2 linked regions of the Homo sapiens genome follow. The protein of the gene in region 1 interacts with the protein of each later gene in a pairwise test. Each region holds a gene or a part of one and is shown on either strand. Other genes may lie near its edges.

What was found.
Region 2: the proteins of MIB1 (region 1) and EPB41L4A interact in a two-hybrid assay, tested with the Homo sapiens proteins (one study listed by BioGRID).

What each region holds. Positions count from the first base shown.
Region 1 is NC_000018.10:21,813,783-21,820,811, forward strand, and holds part of MIB1 (E3 ubiquitin-protein ligase MIB1), read left to right. Parts: exon of another isoform or gene 1-113; coding exon of another isoform or gene 114-122; intron 123-1,833; coding exon 1,834-2,031; intron 2,032-3,841; exon of another isoform or gene 3,842-4,046; intron 4,047-5,712; coding exon 5,713-5,864; intron 5,865-7,029. UniProt on the Homo sapiens protein: E3 ubiquitin-protein ligase that mediates ubiquitination of Delta receptors, which act as ligands of Notch proteins.
Region 2 is NC_000005.10:112,409,259-112,416,287, reverse strand, and holds part of EPB41L4A (band 4.1-like protein 4A), read left to right. Parts: intron 1-7,029.

The DNA.
Region 1 (7,029 bases):
GACCCCTTGCAAAACTAGGGAGTCCACCAGGGGCTGGCACAGTGGTATTGGGAATCGGAAACCACTGCTTTGGATGGAGGAAGTCTTAGAGTACCAGGATCAGGGACAGACACATGGTCTTGGTGGGTGTTAAAATTTGCAATGCAGTATTGGAATAAATGCAATACGCTTATACCTACTACCCTTTTCCATCTGCTTCTGGCAAGGCAGTGAGACTTCTTTTCATACTTTTTGGTATAAGCTATGTATACTACCTTCATGGCGCAGTGCAGGCAGTTTTTCCCCTTTATAAAGTACCTTCTTTTAGTTTTAAAAAATTTAAGCAATTTGGTCTTTCCTGCCTTCTCATTTCTTCAGAAATATGCCTGTTACAGGAGGTGAGGCAAATCTATTTGATTCTTCTGAAATAGTTTTGGAATTTTTGATATATGGAATTTTGGTAGTTTATGCTTCGTTTTTATCTTTTAATGGTGTATTTAATTTTTTTTCTGTTCTCGAATATACAGAAAAATGTATGCTCATCACTTAACCAGTTTTAATGTGTTGATAAATTGCTCCCCATTAAAGCCAGTTGAGATCACATTGTTTGGCATTCTTTTTTTTTTTTTCAATCACACAACTCATCTTAGTTTACTTTTTGTGTCATCTTTGTAGGACGTGCACGGTGGCTCACACCTATGATCCCAGCATTTTGTGAGGCTGAAGTTGGAGAATTTATTAAGGCCAGGAGTTAAAGGCTGCAGTGAGCTATGACTGCCACTGCATTCCAGCCTGGGTGACAGAACAGGACCCTGATTCTTTTTTTATTGAGAGGCAGTCTTGCTCTGTCGCTCAGGCTTGGAGTGCAGTGGCCCGATCTCAGCTCACTGCAACCTCTGCCTCCCGGATTCAAGCAGTTCTCCTCCCTCAGCCTCCCGGGTAGCTGGGATTACAGGCATGTGCCACCATGTCTGGCTAATGTTTGTAATTTTAGTAGAGACGGGTTTTCTCCGTGTTGGCCAGGCTGGTCTTGAACTCCTAACTTCAGGTGATCCGCCCGCCTTGGCCTCCCAAAGTGCTGGGATTACAGGTGTGAGCCACTGCGCCTGGCCTAGGACCCTGATTCTTTAAAAACAACAACAACAACAACAACAAAAATGGTCTTTGTAAAAATTTTTAAATGTCAAAAAAAATTGGCTTACCATCATGGCTGATAAATGAGGAATGCTGAAAGTTCAAGCTGTTGGTTTTATATATATATATATATATATATATATATATATATATATATATATAAAATTATATATAAATGTATATATATAAATAAATAAATACATATATATAAAATGATCTAAGTTTATCATTTATCTTTGGGAGTTAGTCACTGTTCAAGTCAGTTTCTAGGTTTTAAAAAATTTTTTTATAGAGACAGGGTCTCACTCTGTTGCCCCGGTCAGAGTGCAGTGGTGCGATCATAGCTCACTGTAACTTGAAACTCCTTGGCTCAAGCAATCCTCCTGTGTCAGCCTCCCAAGTAGCTGGGACTACAGGTGGGTGCCACCATGCCTGGCTCTCTCTACAAGACAGGATCTTGCTATGTTGCCCAGATTGGTATTGTTGGAAATCTTACTCACATTTACAGTTTACTTGGCCTCAAGTGATCCTTCTGCCTTGTCCTCCCAAAGTGCTGGGATTACAGGCATGAGCCACTGCACCTGGTCAAGTTCTAGTTATTTTGTTGTTTCCTACATTGCCTTTTCTCAAATTAATCTGCTTCTTGGTATATTATTATAGCTTCAAGGTTTTTTTCTTTCTAAAATATTCACTAATTCACATTTCAATACTAATGATTAGGATAAAGATGGTGATAGAGCAGTTCACCATGCAGCTTTTGGAGATGAAGGCGCTGTTATAGAAGTACTACATCGAGGTAGTGCTGATTTGAATGCTCGAAACAAGCGCCGACAGACACCACTTCATATTGCTGTCAATAAAGGTCATCTTCAAGTTGTGAAGACTTTATTGGACTTTGGCTGTCATCCCAGTCTCCAGGTAAAACCTTTAAAGAAACACATCCTGCAGGTATTGCTAGGATCCTATTAAAGGGAAACATTAAGTTCTATGGTAAGCATTCCTTTGTTACCGTTCTCATATGTCATAGTAAATGATACCAAAGGCGTAAGATGTTACAAAATTGGCAGCTATTTCTTTTTTAAAAAGTTGTTTTTTTTTAGGGAAAATGCCAATAGATTGGGTTTTGATTGGGCAGGGAGAATGAGGACTTCTTTGTAAAAATATCAGCTTATGAATGGATTTAACTTTATTGATCATGACAGTGAGCTCAACAGCTTAAAGAAGTGTAATAGGCTATATTTCATAATAGTTACTTCATAACTATTTAAATTATTTTAATTGTAGCTTTTATTGTAGCTTAGGGACTTTGAATAGTCGTTAGTGTAATCTTCGGAGATTTCTGTTTTGGAAAATGTATAGGATTTTAGAGTTGATTTACAGTAGGATCTAATTTTTGAAGCAATGATTGCCTAAGAAATGATTATCCCCAGCTACAGTTTTATAACCAGATAAATTAAACCACAAATATATAGAAAATGTAGTCTGTGTCCATTTTCTGCTTAGTTTGGTTACTAAGCAACTTGTCTTTTGTGCACCTGTTTGATTAAAGTTTCTATACTTAGTAATTTTGTAGCTCCTGAATCTAATTTGCCAACTTTTAGGTTCCTTAACCGAATAGGCTTGAAACAACATATTATTTTTAAATAAAAGTGTTCCCTGAAATACTATTTGAATATGTAAAACATAATTTGTTTCCATTGGAAACTCAATAATGATTTTTTAAAAAGTAGGGCAGTGGTTAGAATCATAAGCTGCTTGTAGTTTAGATAATTTACAGCATCCAGGAATTGGTTGCTGGATTGGATAGATCTCAGAGAAGAAATAAAGAACAGTAGTAGTGGGAATGAGGGCTTGAGAAGAACTGAAAGAATAGATTTTGTTCAGCTAGATAATTATTAGAAATTAAGGTTTTTGAAGTGCAGCTGTTTTGGAACTGTTGGGATCTAGAGTATGTCCTTGTAAGTGGGAGGCAGGATTGGAGGATGAGGGAAGAATTGGGGGGGTGTTAATCTGTAAGGAGAGGTGATTTATACCTGCTGACGTTTTTTGTCTGAAATGGGAGACAAGTTCATCTGTTGAGAGTGGTGGGTAGAGAAAGAGTAATTGAGAAGAGTGATAAGGACTTGGGGACCTGCAGAAGGGTGTTCCAATCATGTTAGAAGCCCGTTTCAGGTTGAACACTACAGATTTTTAGTGCCGCCAGATACAGGAGTAGAAGGTAGATGGTAGATGGTTGGATTGAACTTGGGTTAGGAATTCTTTTTTTTTTTTTTTTTTTTTTTTTGAGGCAGGGTCTTGCTCTGTTGCCCAGGCTGGAATTCAGTGGCGTGATCATGGCTCATTGCAGTCTCAACCTTCAGGGCCCACCTCAGCCTCCCGAGTAGCTGGGACTACAGGTGTGAGCTGCCATGCCTGGCTAATTTTTTGTAGAAATGCCCAGGTTGGTCTCAAACTTCTGGTCTCAAGCAATCTTCCTGCTCCCACCTCCCAAAGTCCTGGGATTACCGGTGTGAGCCACCATGCCTAGCAGGAATTCTTTATGTAGGTGGATGAATATATTCCTGGGATTAGCAAACATTTTCTATATTGGGCACAGATAATAGTGGCTTATTGGCTTTTGCCACAACTATCTAACTCTCATTGCAGAATGAAAGCAGCCATAGATAATACATAAATGAATGGGTGTGGCTGTGTTCCAATAAAACTTAATTTACAAAAACAGGTGGCTCCAATGTGTAATATCCTGGGATATCATTTTTTCTAGGCTTTGTCCACATGGCTTAGGGGAGCATAGGGCTCTGCCCCATGATGTACAGTCCCTTTCCTCAGTGTTGGAGATGAAGCTGGGTCTGGTGTTTGCACTTTCATATTCCTGTAGCTTCTCAGAATCCTGTGGACAGTGACTGGGGAGACAAACCATGCAGGAAATATGTCTAGTAAAAAAGAATAAAACAAACAAAAAACAAGTGGCAAACTGAATTTGGCAACTGTAGTATATGCTGTAGGCCAGGTTGTATATGACTTTACTGAGAATAGCATCTGTTCAACTATGAAATGAATGAAATTTAAATTATTCATGTCTGTACATGACTGCTAATGAATAAAAACTTACTGCTAAGTCAATTGATTAATGTAAAAAGTAGTCAGCTTGAAAAAATGGTAGACTGAGATTGCTAAATTTTAATTTACAATTGTTTTACCTTTGGCTAACTAGCCACTTTGCTGCCCTTTGAAAACGCTTAGATTAATGTTTCTCACCTGTGACTGCACAAGATGTTCATCTGTGGAGCTTTGAAAAATTACTCATGCCTCACTCTCACCTCTAGAGATTTAGTATGGTGAACAGCCTGGACATCAGATTTTTTTTTCTCTTTTTTTTCCTCTGTACAACAGATTTTAAAAGATCTCCCCAGCAGGTTCTAATGAGCAGCCAAGTTTGAAAGCCACCGACTTTCAATTCATTGTTATGGTGTAGGTTTGGTATGGAATTTCAGGGTATGACAATTAAGGCCATTTTAAACTTATAAAATTTGGGGGGCAGCTTTATCACTTCACTGGTTTTTGTCATTAGTTATATTTGAGGCTACTTCTTTTCTTTTCTTTTTGCTTTGTAAAGCTTCAGCATGTGCCAGGAGTGGTGGCTTATGCCTGTAATCCCAACACCTTGAGAGGCTCATGTGGGAGGATCACTTGAGCACAGGAGTTCAAGACCAGCATGGGCAACATACTGAGACCCCCATCTCTACAAAAAAAGAACTTTGCCGGGCAAGGTGGCTCACGCCTGTAATCCCAGCACTGTGGGAGGCTGAGGTGGGCAGATCACGAGGTCAGGAGTCTGAGACCAGCCTGGCCAACGTGGTGAAACCCCGTCTCTACTAAAAATACAAAAATTAGCTGGGCATGGTGGTGGGTGCCTGTAATCCCAGTTACTTGGGAGGCTGAGGCAGGAGAATCGCTTGAAACCGGAAAGTGGAGGTTGCAGTGAGCTGAGATCGCGCTATTGTACTCCAGCCTGAGTGAAAGAGCGAAACTTGGTCTCAAAAAAAAGAAAAAAAAATTCCAGCATGCTTATTTTGTTTTCCAACTAGATTTGAGTATGTCTTTCCTTACTATAATGTGGCCAGTGTTTCTTGCCTGTATTTTTGTTTTTTATATTTTTGGAGATAGAGTCTCGCTCTGTCACCCTGGCTGGAGTGCAGTGGCATGATCATAGCTCACTGGAGCCTTGAACTCCTGGGCTCAAGCCATTCTTCTGCCTCAGCCTCCTGAGTACCTAGGACTATAGGTGCACACCGCCGTGCCCGGCTAATTTTTAAAATTTTTTGTAGGGACAAGGTCTCTATATGTTGCCCAGGTTGGTGTTGAACTCCTGGCCTCTGCTGATCCTCCCGCCTCAGCCTCCCAAAGTGCTAGGGTTACAGACATGAGCCAGCATGCCCAGCCTTTGCCTATATTTTTGTAGTTATCACAGAAAGTGCTCTTTTATTGGTATTTGTTGGATGTGGTCTCTGCTTCTGTTTGCTTAGCATTTGGTGTAAGTATTACTATTAGATGGGATAATTAATTGAAGAACTAATGAAAATTTCTTTAAACTTAAAGGATTCTGAAGGTGATACCCCTCTTCATGATGCAATAAGTAAGAAACGTGATGATATCCTAGCAGTTCTTTTGGAAGCTGGAGCAGATGTTACCATCACAAACAATAATGGATTTAATGCTCTGCATCATGCTGCACTAAGGGGAAATCCCAGGTATGTCACCCCTTACTATTTTAGGTGCAATTCAAAAATATTTTCCTACTGTTGATTCTCTTTTTCTGATACTGATGAAGAAATAATTTTGGCTATTTTAGTATTTTAAATCATTTTAAAGTTTTGTGAATATTATGCCTTTAGTTTTATATGATGATTATTTGGTTGTTAATCTAATACAAATATTATGAAATGATTATTTAAGTTTATATTAAATGTGGTTGTAAAATATCAGGAATACTAGTTTCTTTCTAAAGATTTAATTAAAATGCATTTTATTTTGAGATTTATGTTTCTTCAAAATAATTATCTGGGTGTCCTCTAATTTCATGTTGCCATTTGCACGATAATTATTTTTTAAAACTTAAGACTAAATAAATACTAAGTTACCTAATTCCTTATTAATAATGTAATTAGTTATATAAACTTCTAGTATAGCTATCCCCTCATCCATTGTTACAGCAATAGTATTCTACTGAAAAAAGTATTTGCTGGTTGACATTTGAGAAAGACTCCTTTTGGAGAATCACATTCTTTATGAAGGATCTGCGGTGTCCCACAGAATGGGAAAATGCTTAGCTTTGCTTAATTTAGAGATTTCCATTAACTCACTTTTTGGAACAACTTTACCCTAAGCATTTTAGGAAATTCTGCATTGGATGTCTTCTGTTTATGTTTGAGTCAAACCTGTATACCTGGACTAAGAAAAATCTTCACTTTGATTTTTATTTTGATAATTTTATCTATTCTGAACACTTATTCTTTGGTTCCTTATTGTATTTTTATATCATGTTTCCTTTAGCTTCTTAGGATCACCACTAGAGGGTGACCACAGGAAACAAAAGGATTTTATTGCTACTGCTTATTGGTAACTGTAACAGTGGGTATATATTGTAGGACAAAATGAATGATCATATTTTAGATCACATCTTGATTTTTTTTCCAAATTGCAAATATTTGAACACTTCAGATTTTGGCATTGTGAAGAAGACAGTAGTATTATATTTCCCTGCCCTTCAAACAGAAGATTATGATAGCACTTTCCACATGCCAGCCTCTGCAAAGTGCTTCACATGCATCATCTCACTTAATCCTTTCAACAGCTTTTTGGGGCAGGTGTTAATATCCTCATTTTACACGTGAAGAATATGAGGCTTATAGAGAT
Region 2 (7,029 bases), on another chromosome or scaffold:
AGGTGGAAGAAATATGAGAGAATCTTGGTAAACATTTTTTCTGTGTATCATTTTGAAAAACATTCTTTGGATTTATTTAAGCACCAAATTACAAATAGAAAAGTTAGTTTTGAAGTGATTTTTCTTCAACTTAGATAAAGTTTTTCATCGATGTTAGAAAAAAAATTAATGTGTCATCATGAAAAGTGTTTCAGCCTGAAGACAACAGTTACTCATCTTATATGGTAAGATGAATATCAGTTAAATGGAAAATAATTTTATTTCCATTTAATTTCCATTTAAATGGAAAATAATTTTCTGTTAAAAAAAAAATACCAGAAAAATAAAACACAGTATCTTTGCATCCCTGTTAATGTTACGGAGGTATTTGCCTTTTTTACTTGCTTTAGGGGCAACCTCACCTTGATAGCAGAAAGTCTTATTCATGCAGTTCACAGTTTGAACCTTATCCGAGATTTAAAAACTCAAGTTTACATAAGCTGAGAGCTATTGGTTGTGTGTTGAGCCCTACAATAGCTTTTAGCTGTTTGTCTTTTGCTGCTATCTGTTGTTTATTCAAGTAAGGATATTTGGTATGGTTGGTCTCAGTTGTTTGAGTAATGTTCTGGGAAACTTTTGTTGTATCCTTTCTAGTTCTCTGTGCTGAGGGAGGTAGATAACTTTCTTTTTGTTCTCTTAGCAAAACTTGAATGTGGCTCAGACTGCTTTTCTAGTTTTTCATTTGGTTAGCAAAACATTTTCAGGAAAACAAAAGTCACAAGATTTGATTATAAATTTAATTCTCAAAATTGCTGCTACAAATATGAAATAGATTAGTATTTTCATTTTGGCAAGATTTTAATCCTCTGAGTAGCATGATGAATGTTTAGGTGCTCATTTTTCCCTATGAGTATTGACTAAACTAATGAAACCAATATGGCAGTAAGATGAAAATTCCATTACCTTCTTTTAAATGGCTTTGTTAAGGTATACCATACATTTCGCCCAGTTAAAGTGTATAGTTCATCCATTAACTACTAAATAATGTTACTTCCCAATCATCCTGAGATTCCTGAGGGAATACTGTGAGTCAGTTTTGATGCTTTTGGTTAGAAATTTCCTAATAAGCTAGGAAAACAAGCATAAGGCGAGGGCTTAAATTTTATGCATCTCACTTACCAAAAATTACAATTTTCATTCAATTTGGACTAATAAATAAAATATCCCAGAAGATTGGGAAAAAATGAAAAGCAATAGTTTCACAAATTATATTAAGTTTATATGTGAATACTCATATCTTTTGGTATCAGCTACTTAAGGTACAGAGTCAGGAACCATATAAACGTAGGTAGAAGCAAGTAATCACACACAAACGTAAGATTCACTGTGGTCTTGATTGGGTATTAAATTAGATGTGACTGGGCTAGAAAGTGTCTCTCCTGCATAACTACATCCAGTTTTCTAAAATTCAAAAGTGATATCCAGGTTGTGGCCGCATAAGATGAACTGTGTATAAATAGCCCCTCAATTTTACAAGAAGTCTTTTTCTTGAAAAAAATTATTAAAAATACCTTTTATCATCCATGACTTGAATGTGATTTAATAACTGTTTAAGGGGGAAAGCATTGTTGGTTACCTCCAACAGCTTTTGGCTGTCCCTCCCTAGGTGCTTCTGGTATTCTTGGTTGATAGTGAACTACACTTTTTGCAGTCCAGTTACTGTGTGTGTTCTTGAATTCTGTATTGGTAAGCTTGAACTATCTTGAACTCCCTGTGGGAGTTTATCCTGTCCCTTGTAGGATACTTAGCAGCATTCCCTGCCTCCTCTCACCAGATGTGTGGCACCTCTTTTCCAATAATGACAACCAAAAATCTCCCCAGATGTTGCCAGATCTTCCCTGATGGGCATAATCACCCTCCGTTGAGAACCACTCTCATAGAGGATAGCAGCTTCCTTTGTTCTTATGTCTTTGTTGCACAGTTTCAATATTGAATGCGGGGTAACTTTTAGATGCCTTCTATTTTTTCTTTTTTCCCCCTCTTTTGGAATGGTGAGTTGTTTACCCTCATATTCAGTGAAAACAATATGTTATCTTTATCTTGCTTCATATTCAAGTATCTTTACACGTGCTTCATATCTTTATACACAAAACAATACCTGCAGTGATTAAAAGCATAGGCTCTAAAGTCAGATTACCTGGGTTTAAATTTTGGCACCGCTAATTACTTACTAGCCGAGTCGTTTCTGAGTTTCAGTTTCCCCATCTGTAAAATGAAGAGAAATGATGTACAGTATTCACCTTCTACATTCATGCTGTCTTGCACATGATAAGCACCCAGCAAATTTTAACTTTATTCCACCTTTCCTCCTCTTCTCCTTGTTGTAGTGGCTCATTCCTTCCTAGAGATAAAGTCCAAGCTTCATTGTTTGACTTAGCACCCTACCTGATCTAGCCCTGCCAGTCCAAGTGACTTGCCCTCTAGGTATGCAGAAACTGCTCACGGTTTCCCAAATATTCCAGATTGTTTTGAGACTTTATGCATGAGATTCCTGCTGATTGGTGTACCATTTTGTTTCTCCATAAACACATACTTATCGGAAGCATCCTTGAATCAAGTGTCCCATCTGCTAGGCAGCCTTCACTTCTGCCTGACCAAGCGGAGGTAGGTGCCTATTTGTGCCTCACACATCCCTGTTACAGCATCTGTCACACTGCATGCATTATTTCTGGACACATCTGTCTCCTCCAGCAGCCTGTGAGCTGCTACCTGTGATCCCCAGGAGTCAGAGCTGTATACTTCATGTGGTAGATGCTTATTAACTATAATTTGATAGAAGAATGAGTGGAGTGTTACAGCTGGAATAGGCTGTATTGAAAATCTTCTAGATAATGGAGTTCCTTTGCTATTTTATTTTTACTAGAAAAGACCCTAGAATAAAGTGAATCCCACTGTGAAAAATCTGTTGTCAAGATACTCTAATTTTTGTATTGATAATGGGTAGAAAATGAGACGGTGCAGTGGACTGAATGCATGCAGTACATTGAAAAGCTGACTAGCAGCTATTTCAGAAAACATGAATCACACCGTTTTTGTATTTTGTAAGTACCAAATCTTTCTCTTCTAAATTTAATGCTCCCCTTCCAACCTGAGTCTTTCCGAAGAAGAGCATATTTCCCAAATGGAAAATAGATCCTCATACTTTAGTGACTTTTCTTCCTTGTCTCCCATTCTTGAAACTGAGAACCATGTTGGTTGGTTTCACAGTGGGGGTTTATGCTATTGTGAACCAGCACTGTAATTTTTAATCTTGCTGAATCACCTGTGTGTTACTCTTGAAGCTGTTTAAACCTAATCTGACACTGCTCTAAGGCTTACTGGAAAAGATGGTGTAAATACATTAAATATTGGGTTTTTATGAAAAAATTATATTTTTCATTCTGATGCAAAGTGTGTTTGTCTGCAGGCCTGTTGTAAACATGACAAGTCAGAGATCAAACTGGCTGCATCTACGGCTCCTGCCTCTCTGAGATTGACTGCTTTGGTTCAGCTTTATCTCTGACAATTTTAATCACATCTGAAGCTCCTGCATATTGCTCCTGGTCATCCTGCTTTGGGTTGTGATGACTAACCACCGTTTGTTTCTGCACCATAAGTTTTGTTTCCACGTTTCATATGTTAAGATTAAACAGGCACCTGTTATCACATGTCCTGGGCATAGACTCAGTGTGCTAAATTCAGGAACCAGTCAGTTTACTTTGTGACTCAAAAACCTTGTAAGTACAATTTAGAGTGTCTATACCATTGTAAAAAATGTGATTGCATTCCTGTGTCCTCTGAGCCATGCATGTATTTCCTGTGTTCTTTTTTAAGTGAAATAGTCATTATGTCTTAATGCTGCGTATTGTGAATCCCTTTCTCTATAACTACACACTCTTGCAAAGAGATTCATCAAGGTCTGGAATAGTTCCTTCGGAGGCTGTCTTAATGATCGCTGAAGACATAAAGGGCCTGCAGCCCTTCCAAAATGTGTGAGAAGTTTGTTTTCCAGCACAGGATATTGACATGCCAAGAGGAAGTTAGAACAAGAGAGATGGGGACAGGCAGGGAAAACAGAGAAGTGCTGAGCGATAGCTCACACAGACAATAACCAAAAGGTCAGATGGCAAAGGAGGAATTGGTGGACCGAGACTGCAGAGGGAACCATGTGCTGCAGTGTATTGTTTAGGAACGACACCTTCTGAGCCCTCGGGAAAGCGCATTTAGTAATGTGGAGTCCTCATCTTGAGGGGGACTATGTTTCAGCGGTTGGTTAGAAAGTGCTTTGTTTAGAGAACAGTGGGGGCCGTGAGTGAGGGTCAGGTTGCTGAGCTAGCCCAGAGAGACTATTTGAGTTGTTAAATCACTCAGGTTCCACCTTGACCTTCATCAGACCTGTGTTTGAGAAGCAGGCTTGGAACCTCTGCTGCCTTAATTGCGACTTGTCGAAATTGGTTTTTCTCTGCCATCCTCGCTGCTCCTGACTTAGTTTGGCCCTTTCACCTGGGCCAGCCTCCTAATGGGAGTGCTGTATGGTCACCATCAGTCTTTCCCCTCCCTGCTCCCTGTCCTGTGTTCAATCAAATCCTTGTCTGCCTTGTAATTACTGGCTTTGTGATTGGACAAGTGATTTTTTTTTTTTTTGCCAGCCCCAGTTTCCTTATCTGTAAGCTGAGGGGCATGATATCTGCCTCATAGGATGACTGTGAGAATTTGAGGAAAGAATTTTAGGTACATAGGATAAAAGGTGCTCAATAAATGATAGCTATTAGTATGTATGATATATTATTTGCAAATACATTTATTTCTGAATTTCAGTTTGGGATATCGAATCTCTGCCACCCCTGCCTAAGGTTGCACAGGTTCTCCGAGGGGTATGAGTGGTTGTTAGAAGTGGGAGAGCAGTGGTGATTTGATATTCATATATATTTGTCAGATCTGTCTGTAGGAGAAATAGTATCATGTTCCATTTGTGCATCTACTCACATTGCCTCAACCACCACTAGAATGCTGAAACTCCACATCTGTACCTGTAGTCCCAACTTCCTTATTTTCTGGATTCTGATCACTTACTAGATTCTGCACTAGATGCCTAAGCCAGCCATCACTACCCTCCTCCAGACCTGCTTATCTTCCTGTGCTTCCAAGTTTGATGAATGATCTCACACTCTATCAGTAAAGATGCTTTGGTCACCAGTTATGGAGATACCATTGCAAACTACTTGAACATGAGGAAGTTTATTAGCTCACCTATCAGGGAATCCAGGGGCAAGGAAAGGAGGTTCAGGGCGGGTCAGTGACATCAAGGTCCCAGCTTCTCTCATTTCATCCTTGCTCTGCTATCTTGGAGCCAGTGCCATCCTCAGGTGGTAGCAATGGCCAAATTCTAGAGATGAAGAGGTGATATTTGTATATGGCAATATGTAGGATAGTAATAGAGACAGTCTTTTCTAGGAGAAAGGCTTTCTCCTGAAGTCCTCCAGCAGACTTCCCTTGAGTCTTTTAGCTAGAATGAGTCTCATGGCCATTCTTGGGCGATAAGGGCAATGGGATCACCTGTAGAAGAATAAAGGGTCTTTCCTGAAGCTGGGTGGGAGTGGGGTCAGTTTCCCTGAGGCCAGTGGCTACATGGGGGAGGGGCTCAGGAAGGAAGGAGGAGAGTTGTGGGTACTGTTGTCACCATCAGTGTCCAGTCTACCTCTTGGGTCAGGATCCTTAAGTTTCCACATCCTTCCAGGTCTTGGAATTCCCACCTCCTAAACATCTTCCAAATTGTTTCTTTTCCCCTGTTTTCATTGCTGCTGCACTTCAGGCCCTTCTCAGTTCTCAGCTGGACAATTTGCAGGGCCTCCTAATCCCTGCAAGGCCCCTGCTTCCAGCATTAACCACCTGCATCTAGAGTGCTCTTTCTTGCCTCCTGCCTAGAATACTTTAATGTCTAGTCAGCCTCTGTGCTTGGGTTAAATTCCTAGCTGCGAGTGGCAGTCATTTTCAAGTCCCAACCTCCTTTCTATTCTTTCTCCCACCATCTCCTCATACTTGTCTGATACTCTAGCCAGATGGAGCTGCTTCCTAGTCTCTGAATTTTCCACATTCCCTCTCACCTTTTTCTGTGTGTAGAAAGCCCCACCCACCTCCTTTTGTTTGAGTGATGTATCAGCTCTCATGAAGGAGAGTTCTGCCTAGGTTTCACTTTTTTGTGAAGACTTCTCCTTGATGCGGAGCTGGAGAGGCCCTCTTCTGACCCTAATCCAGACTGCATTTCATTGCAGTAGTTTTTGTACTTTCCTGCTCACCTTGACCTGGGAGGAATACAGTGAGGTGAAGAGGGCATAGGCTTTTGTCATAGACAAATCTGGCTTCGAGTCTCCCTCCTGTTGGTTAGTGCTGTGAACATGGCCAAATCACTTACCCTCTTTGAGTTGGCTTTCTCATCAGTAATAAGGGTAAGGCTGTCCACCTCATCATGGGATGCTATACATGAAACCCTTAGCTCCTTTCCCGGTGAGTGGTAGCAGCTGTTAGTAGGGATGGAAAGCCTTGAGGGAGAGAACTAGGTCTTTTTTATGGGATTCCCAGTCAAGCCTAGTTCCTAAAGAGTAGTAGGCATCAATGAATAAATGTTGAATTAATCTGAATAAGAAAAAGTATCTTTACGTTGACATAATCTGAGAAAGAGAAGGCATCTCTCTCCTTTCCGTTTTCTAGGTGTTCTTGGTATAACTGCTTGACTCCTCAATTTCTTATTTAATTTTTGAAAACTGCTTTATTGAGATATAAATTGTATACTGTACAACTTACCCATTTAAATTGTCCAATTCAGTGGTTGTTCATATATTTACGGAATTGTGCAGCCATCACCACAATCAATTTTATAAGATTTTCGTCCCTGCAGAAAGAAACTGAAAACCACTCTTCACTTCCTTCCAGCCTTCCATCCCCTGCCCCCACCACTGTGTAACCACTAATCTTTCTGTCTCTATAGTTTTGTGTATTCGGGACATTTCATAT